Linked DNA regions of Homo sapiens: region 1 is reported to be linked to region 2. The links are microRNA targets in miRTarBase. Many come from high-throughput screens and were not tested one by one. Region 2 holds a microRNA gene; the other region holds the end of a gene's coding sequence. Distances are from middle to middle.
Evidence for each region. Region 2 holds the annotated microRNA hsa-miR-4257 (CCAGAGGUGGGGACUGAG, at 1,721-1,738, shown strand). A microRNA usually pairs through its seed, bases 2 to 8, with sites in the 3' UTR of a target mRNA and lowers its output. Matches are read on the target gene's strand: a 7mer-m8 pairs with bases 2 to 8, a 7mer-A1 pairs with bases 2 to 7 and ends in A, and an 8mer does both.

Region 1: miRTarBase lists SH3BGRL3 as a target of hsa-miR-4257. Seed matches in the 3' UTR shown: 7mer-m8 at 913-919.

What each region holds. Positions count from the first base shown.
Region 1 is chr1:26,280,510-26,283,897 of GRCh38, forward strand. It overlaps SH3BGRL3 (SH3 domain binding glutamate rich protein like 3), which reads left to right. Exons shown (of 3, transcript NM_031286.4): 2 at 256-423; 3 at 549-1,013. The coding sequence ends at 614. It overlaps UBXN11 (UBX domain protein 11), which reads right to left. Exons shown (of 15, transcript NM_001389556.1): 13 at 2,355-2,428; 14 at 2,140-2,280; 15 at 1,773-2,060. The coding sequence ends at 1,790. Among named protein-coding and RNA genes, the nearest start is that of SH3BGRL3, 2.1 kb to the left of the region's middle. RefSeq lists enhancers at 1-872, 3,368-3,388.
Region 2 is chr1:150,550,267-150,553,654 of GRCh38, forward strand. MIR4257 (microRNA 4257) reads left to right here and starts at 1,663; the gene lies at 1,663-1,748. ADAMTSL4 (ADAMTS like 4) reads left to right here. Exons shown (of 19, transcript NM_019032.6): 3 at 1,939-2,042; 4 at 2,277-2,334; 5 at 2,632-2,987; 6 at 3,160-3,388. The coding sequence starts at 2,023. LOC124904417 reads left to right here and starts at 24. Exons shown (of 1, transcript XM_047438226.1): 1 at 24-1,084. The coding sequence starts at 24. The coding sequence ends at 794. The region is part of intron 5 of ADAMTSL4-AS2 (ADAMTSL4 antisense RNA 2); the gene reads right to left. RefSeq lists enhancers at 348-1,037, 1,527-2,396.

The DNA of each region.
Region 1 (3,388 bases), 120 Mb from region 2:
CCCTCCCCACCCTGAGCCTGATCCCACTTCCCTTCACTCTGACCCCCTCCCCCGTGGCTGATAATCCCTCTCTTCATCCTGCACCACCTCAAGCCTGACTCATCCTCCCAACTCCTAGAGGCCAGAACCCTCCCCTAGTGTGGAGGGGAATGGGGGGACAAAAGCTCCTGGTCACAGCCTCTCTCACCCTGCCCAGCATTTCCCCCATAAATCCTCCAGCCTATCCACTAACCCCTACCCACCCTCTGTCCCCAGATCAAGTCCCAGCAGAGCGAGGTGACCCGAATCCTGGATGGGAAGCGCATCCAATACCAGCTAGTGGACATCTCCCAGGACAACGCCCTGAGGGATGAGATGCGAGCCTTGGCAGGCAACCCCAAGGCCACCCCACCCCAGATTGTCAACGGGGACCAGTACTGTGGGGTATGGGCTGGGGGACGGGGGGGTGGGGGGAGTGTTGGAAGAGGACTCTAGCCAGGGTCATATCTGCCACAAAGCACTTGGGCCCCCTGCATTCAGGTGACCACCCCTCGCCTCCCCTTCTCCAGGACTATGAGCTCTTCGTGGAGGCTGTGGAACAAAACACGCTGCAGGAGTTCCTGAAGCTGGCTTGAGTCAAGCCTGTCCAGAGTTCCCCTGCTGGACTCCATCACCACACTCCCCCCAGCCTTCACCTGGCCATGAAGGACCTTTTGACCAACTCCCTGTCATTCCTAACCTAACCTTAGAGTCCCTCCCCCAATGCAGGCCACTTCTCCTCCCTCCTCTCTAAATGTAGTCCCCTCTCCTCCATCTAAAGGCAACATTCCTTACCCATTAGTCTCAGAAATTGTCTTAAGCAACAGCCCCAAATGCTGGCTGCCCCCAGCCAAGCATTGGGGCCGCCATCCTGCCTGGCACTGGCTGATGGGCACCTCTGTTGGTTCCATCAGCCAGAGCTCTGCCAAAGGCCCCGCAGTCCCTCTCCCAGGAGGACCCTAGAGGCAATTAAATGATGTCCTGTTCCATTGGCACTGTGTCTGGTTGGTTGTGGCCTGGGCCTCCTGGGTCCCTGCCCTGGGCAAGGTTGGTAGTTGTGACTGTGCTGAGACTGCTCTGTGGGAAGGGTGGCTGAGCTGTTCTCTTGTGACTGTCACCTCTGTGTTTGTTAGTGCATGTGTTTGGATATGTCTGACACACAAATACCTGTATGGACCAGTGGTTTCTGGAGATGTCTGGGTGGGCCACCCTCCAGTTCACATGCATGTGTCCATATCATGCTTGTGCCTTGGTGTGTAGTGCACATCTCCATGCCTGTCAGTGAGTGTGGCCATCCCATGCGCCTGTGTTGGAGCACAATGGCTAAGAATGAGTGTATCATGGGAGGTGGGTACCCAGCTGCAGTTCTGCTAATTTGGGGGCATGGGTCTAGTGGCAAAATGGCTTTGTGCGGTGTTGAAGTGTCCCCACGAGTTGGTGGGTCTGTGCCTGTGCACAGGTATCTGCTGGCTGCACACATACACAGTGAGGCTCTGCTGTCCCAGCTGAGAATGTAAACCCAGCTGGGGCCAGCTCCTTCCCCCCACTGCATCCCTCCCTTCACAGGATCCACTTAGCCCTTCTTGGGAGAAAGAGGAACCTAGAAGACAAAGACCCAGCAGCCAGGCCCGCCAGCCGGGGCTCGAGTTACCAAGGGGCGGGTCGGCACCGCCCCCTCCCTGGCCCAGCTGGTCCCAGGCCTTTCCTACGTGCCTGGCGAGATGGCCCACCCAAGAGCCTGGCGGAGCAGCGGGTTGAGGGGGCGGGTGCTTTATTGGGGGCTGGGACTGGGTCCAGGACAGGGACTGGGGCCGGGACCGGGACCGGGACTGGGGCCGGGACCGGGACCGGGACTGGGGCCGGGACCGGGACCGGGACAGGGACCAGGACTGAATTTCAGGCTGGACTTCGGGGCTCGGCGTGCCCGCAGCAGCAGTGCTGCTTTGGGCACAAGGCCTGCAGCCTGCAGCGTGAGTGTATCGTCCTGGTAGAGGGTGGGCGGGAATGTGCTGAAGATCTCAAAGGCAGAGGCATCCATGACCCTGGGGACCAGGCAGAGCAGATCAGGCTGGGCAGTGGGACCAGAGCCCCTCTGTGGCCCTGGCCCTGCCCTGCACCCACCTGGCCTGCGCTAGCAGAGCTCGCACGTCCCCAATGGTGTTGTCAGGCTGCATCATCAGTAGGAAGGCCTGTTCCCCATTCTCAGACTTGATGCGCAGCATGGAGAGCGGGGGTGCCGGCGTGTTGGGTGACTCCTGGCTCCTGCACAGCCCAGAGGCCATCAGCACGCGGTGACCCAACGCCCCCAGGCCCTCACCTCCTCATCCCGCCCTCACCTCTCTCGCTCAGCGGCCAAGGTGGGCGTCTCCACCACAATCTCCTGGATCCGGGCAGGCAATGGGCAGCAGTTCTGGAAGGTATCAGTGGAGGGTGGACAGAGCCCTAGGCCCCATTTGAGTCATCCCCACAAACCTTAGAGGGACACTTCCTTGACCAGGGACAGATGAGACCAGTGAGCAAAGCGGGAGGGGGTGTTCTGTATAAACCAAGGCCAGAGGAGAGGCAATGGAAGGGGAAGAAGGTTCTGGGAGGCAGCCCCATGGTTCCCCCCAGGTAACCCCCCGTTTCAGTCTAATGGAGACAGAACCCCACACAGACGATGATCAGGCTGGAAGCCCACCCCAGCCTGGGGTCAGGGAAGGCTTCCCTCGGAAAATGACAACTGAGCTGTGACTGAAGGATGAATGGGAGTCCTTAGAAATGGAATGGATGCAGGGATATTCCAGACAGCATCAACAAAGATCCTGGGTTCAGGGAAAGCTTCCTAGAGGTGGCGACACATTTGGGCAACTGCCAGCATTATGTGTGGCTGAAGCTGGGGCTCAATTGGACTGGAAGGAAAAGGTTGGTGTGAGGAGGGGCCTGGCAATATAGGACGGGCCTTGAGTGCCAGCATAAGGAACCTGGCTTTATCTCAAGAACCACTGGAACATTTCAACAGGGAAGGCAGCCTGGAGGATGGTCAGCAGGGGCAGGAGTGGCAGTGGGAGGCAGCTGTCTGGGAGAGACACTCTGAACCCTAGACTAGGGTGGTGGGTGGTGGGAATGTGGAGAAGGGATGCATCTGGGAGAAGTTCTGGGGGTGGACAGACCAGACAGGACTTAGCAATGTGTGGGTGAGGGAGGCAGAGGAGGCCTGAGAAACTAAGGTTTGGTGCCTTTCACAGGTGGACACCTAGGAGGAGAAGCAGAATAGGGAGCGAGGAGACAGAATGATGAGGGCCAAGGAGAGTCTGAGGCAACCACGAAGGGAGTACCCAGTACTGAGTTGGATATTTTGGCCTAGACCTTGATGGGGTGGCCTGGGCCT
Region 2 (3,388 bases):
ATGGAAAGGGGTGAGAAGCATAAATGTGCGTGTGTTTCTGCAGAGGAGGGGGCATGGGCCCCTGCCGGGCTGCGCAGGGGAGGGTGGGGTGGGACTTTTCCAGAGAGGGAGCCAGGCCTGGCCCGGGCCCCGGGAGCTCACGTCACCCCCACCCCTCACTTCTCCAGGGAACTGCCAAAGCCAAACCCAGCTCGGGATGGGATTATGTGTACTGGGTAGACCCGTGGAGAGGGGCTGCGAGAAGAGATCTCGGTGGCAGAGAGAAGCAGAGGCAGAGAGGGCATGAAGAGGGGTCGGCATCAGAGAAGGGGCAGGCAGTGACTATCACCCCATTTCTTCTTCCCTCAGCTGGAGTAACAAGAGTCAGGCAGAGCCTGAAGACTTGGGTGGAACATGGGCCCTTCTCTGGAGATCCTGGCCTCCCCCGTTCAGTCAGGGTGGAGTTGCTGACCTTAGTGGCCGGCCCAGCCAGGGGAAGGAGTGGCCATCGGCAACCCCCACCCCAACCCCAATCCCTGAGGCGCCCGCTCTGGCTCAGCCACTCTGACCCCTCCCTCAAATTCCGAACCCTAGGTCTCAGGGAGGGCAGTGGGGCTGAGTGTCTGCCCCCAGGCACATTCCTACCCTTCTCTTGGTCATTTTCTGCCCCAGAGCTGGCCCACCTCAGCAATGCGAGGGCTCCCTGGATTCCTCTCCCGGGTGCCTTTCAGATCCAACAGAAACAGATTTTTTTTTTCCTGGAAAGCAGAACTAAGAGTGGGATGAGGAGCAGGGGTGGGAAGGACTCAAAGTGAGAAGAAGGGGGCAAAGAGAGTCAGGCTTGGTGGCTGGGGTGGCTTCCAAGCCTCACTTCTCCAGTGTTCAAAGCTGAACTTCAGATGGACTTCCCGGCTCTTCAGAATGAGAGGCCTGTGGCTGGGGCATGAGGCAGCCCCGGCTGCACCTCTCCTTCCCGCTTCCCCAGCTGGTAGAGACGCACAGGAAACAAGCCCTCACTGAACCAACTCCAGATGCTGGCACCCAGAGTGGGTGTTACATTGCCGGCTTCTTCTCTAGAGATTAAACCGTCAACCCATTTAGCTTATCCCTTGGCCAAAAAGTGTATGAGATGTGCCTGGATGTTCCCTAAAGAGCTTATCTAAGAAGGGAAGAGAAAGCCGGGAGGCAAGTAGGACAGAGAGATGACTGGGGAAGGTCTTGTGTCTGGAAGACCCAAGGAAGGGGCTTCTGGTGGGTCCTCAGAGAGAGTGTCTGGCGCATCCTCAGTGGAGCCTTCCTCCTCTACTTTCTAGGCACCTCTGGGAGGGCAGGAGTGGGAGCAGATGACAACCATTTTAGAAGGAGCCCTCTGGCTGGGTGCGGTGGCTCACACCTGTCATCCCAGCACTTTGGGAGGCCAAGGCAGGAGAAGCGCTTGAGGCCTGGAGTTCAAGACCAGCCTGTGCAATTTAGCTGGATCCCATCTCCACCAAAAAATACCAAAATTAGCTGGGTGTGGTGGTGCACGCATGTAGTCCCACCTACTCAGGAGGCTGAGGAAGGAGAGCCTGTGAGTTTGAGGCTGCAATGAGCTTTGGTGGCACCACTGCCCTCCAGCCTGGATGACAGAGTGAGATCTCCATCTCAAAAAAAAAAAAAAAGCCTTTTGTGTGTGCCTGAGCCGGCTTAGAAACAGTCCCTAGGTAGGATTTGGGGAGGAGCTAAGAAGCCCCTACAGGGCCCAGAGGTGGGGACTGAGCCTTAGTTGGAGGGCTGAGGTCAGCCCCTGACCATGTAGCCTCTACAGATGGACAAGGCAGTGATCCTCCCTGCTCCCACCCTGAGGATCCTAAAGGGATGGACCAGTTTCACCCCCTCCTCCATATTCTCTGAGCTGTCCTCCCAGCCCCAAGCTCTCTGGACACTGGAGAGGTAACCACCAGGCTTCTGTCCCTGCAGAGAGCACCCTCCACGCCCAGATGCCTGCGTAGTTTTTGTGACCAGTCCGCTCCTGCCTCCCCCTGGGGCAGTAGAGGGGGAGCGATGGAGAACTGGACTGGCAGGTGAGAGAAGGGGCCACGGGTTGGGGGGGAGGAAAAGGGGAGGTGCTGGGATGGCTCTGTGTCTGGAAGTGAGGGAAAGGGGACCACTGGGAGGGGCAGGGGAAGTGATGAGTAACTTCTGCTTTCTGAGAAGTTGGTAGTCAGGATATGGGAGCCGGCTGGGGGCGGAGGGCAGTGTTGCAACACCCCCTCTGGCTCCAGTCTGACGTCCCTCCCCTGGCCTTTGGTTTGCAGGCCCTGGCTGTATCTGCTGCTGCTTCTGTCCCTCCCTCAGCTCTGCTTGGATCAGGAGGTGAGTTCTGGACAAGTGAGCAGCTGCAGCCTGCCTGCCACCCTTTCATCTCCCCCTAGGCTCCCACCCCATCTCTCCAGGCCACGCCTCCATTCCCCACAGCCCACCCACCTCCCCTGCCAACTCCCCAGTTCCTTGCCTCATAACACCAAGAGGCCGAGGTGTAGTTCTCCCTCTGCTGCTGAATGTGACCTTGGACTGGTAGCGACTCCGTGAGCCTCAGTGTTGGTCTACATGGACACTCTGGACAGTTCCCTCTAATCCTTCCAATTCTGTCTGACCTTTTTCTCTATATAGGTGTTGTCCGGACACTCTCTTCAGACACCTACAGAGGAGGGCCAGGGCCCCGAAGGTGTCTGGGGACCTTGGGTCCAGTGGGCCTCTTGCTCCCAGCCCTGCGGGGTGGGGGTGCAGCGCAGGAGCCGGACATGTCAGCTCCCTACAGTGCAGCTCCACCCGAGTCTGCCCCTCCCTCCCCGGCCCCCAAGACATCCAGAAGCCCTCCTCCCCCGGGGCCAGGGTCCCAGACCCCAGACTTCTCCAGAAACCCTCCCCTTGTACAGGACACAGTCTCGGGGAAGGGGTGGCCCACTTCGAGGTCCCGCTTCCCACCTAGGGAGAGAGGAGACCCAGGAGATTCGAGCGGCCAGGAGGTGAGAGGCCTGGGTGGAAGAGGTGGGCCTTGGGCAAGGTGGGGGCTTAGCATGAAGGAAAGGGGAGCACGGGTGGCTTCAGAGGGCTTGTCTTTGGTGCCAGGAAGTAAACTGGGGAAACAGGGTCAGAGGTGGTCAGAGCTGTGCCCCCACATCTGAAACACCTTCTCAGGTCCCGGCTTCGAGACCCCATCAAGCCAGGAATGTTCGGTTATGGGAGAGTGCCCTTTGCATTGCCACTGCACCGGAACCGCAGGCACCCTCGGAGCCCACCCAGATCTGAGCTGTCCCTGATCTCTTCTAGAGGGGAAGAGGCTATTCCGTCCCCTACTCCAAGAGCAGAGCCATTCTCCGCAAACGGCAGCCCCCAAACTGAGCTCCCTCCCACAGAACTGTCTGTC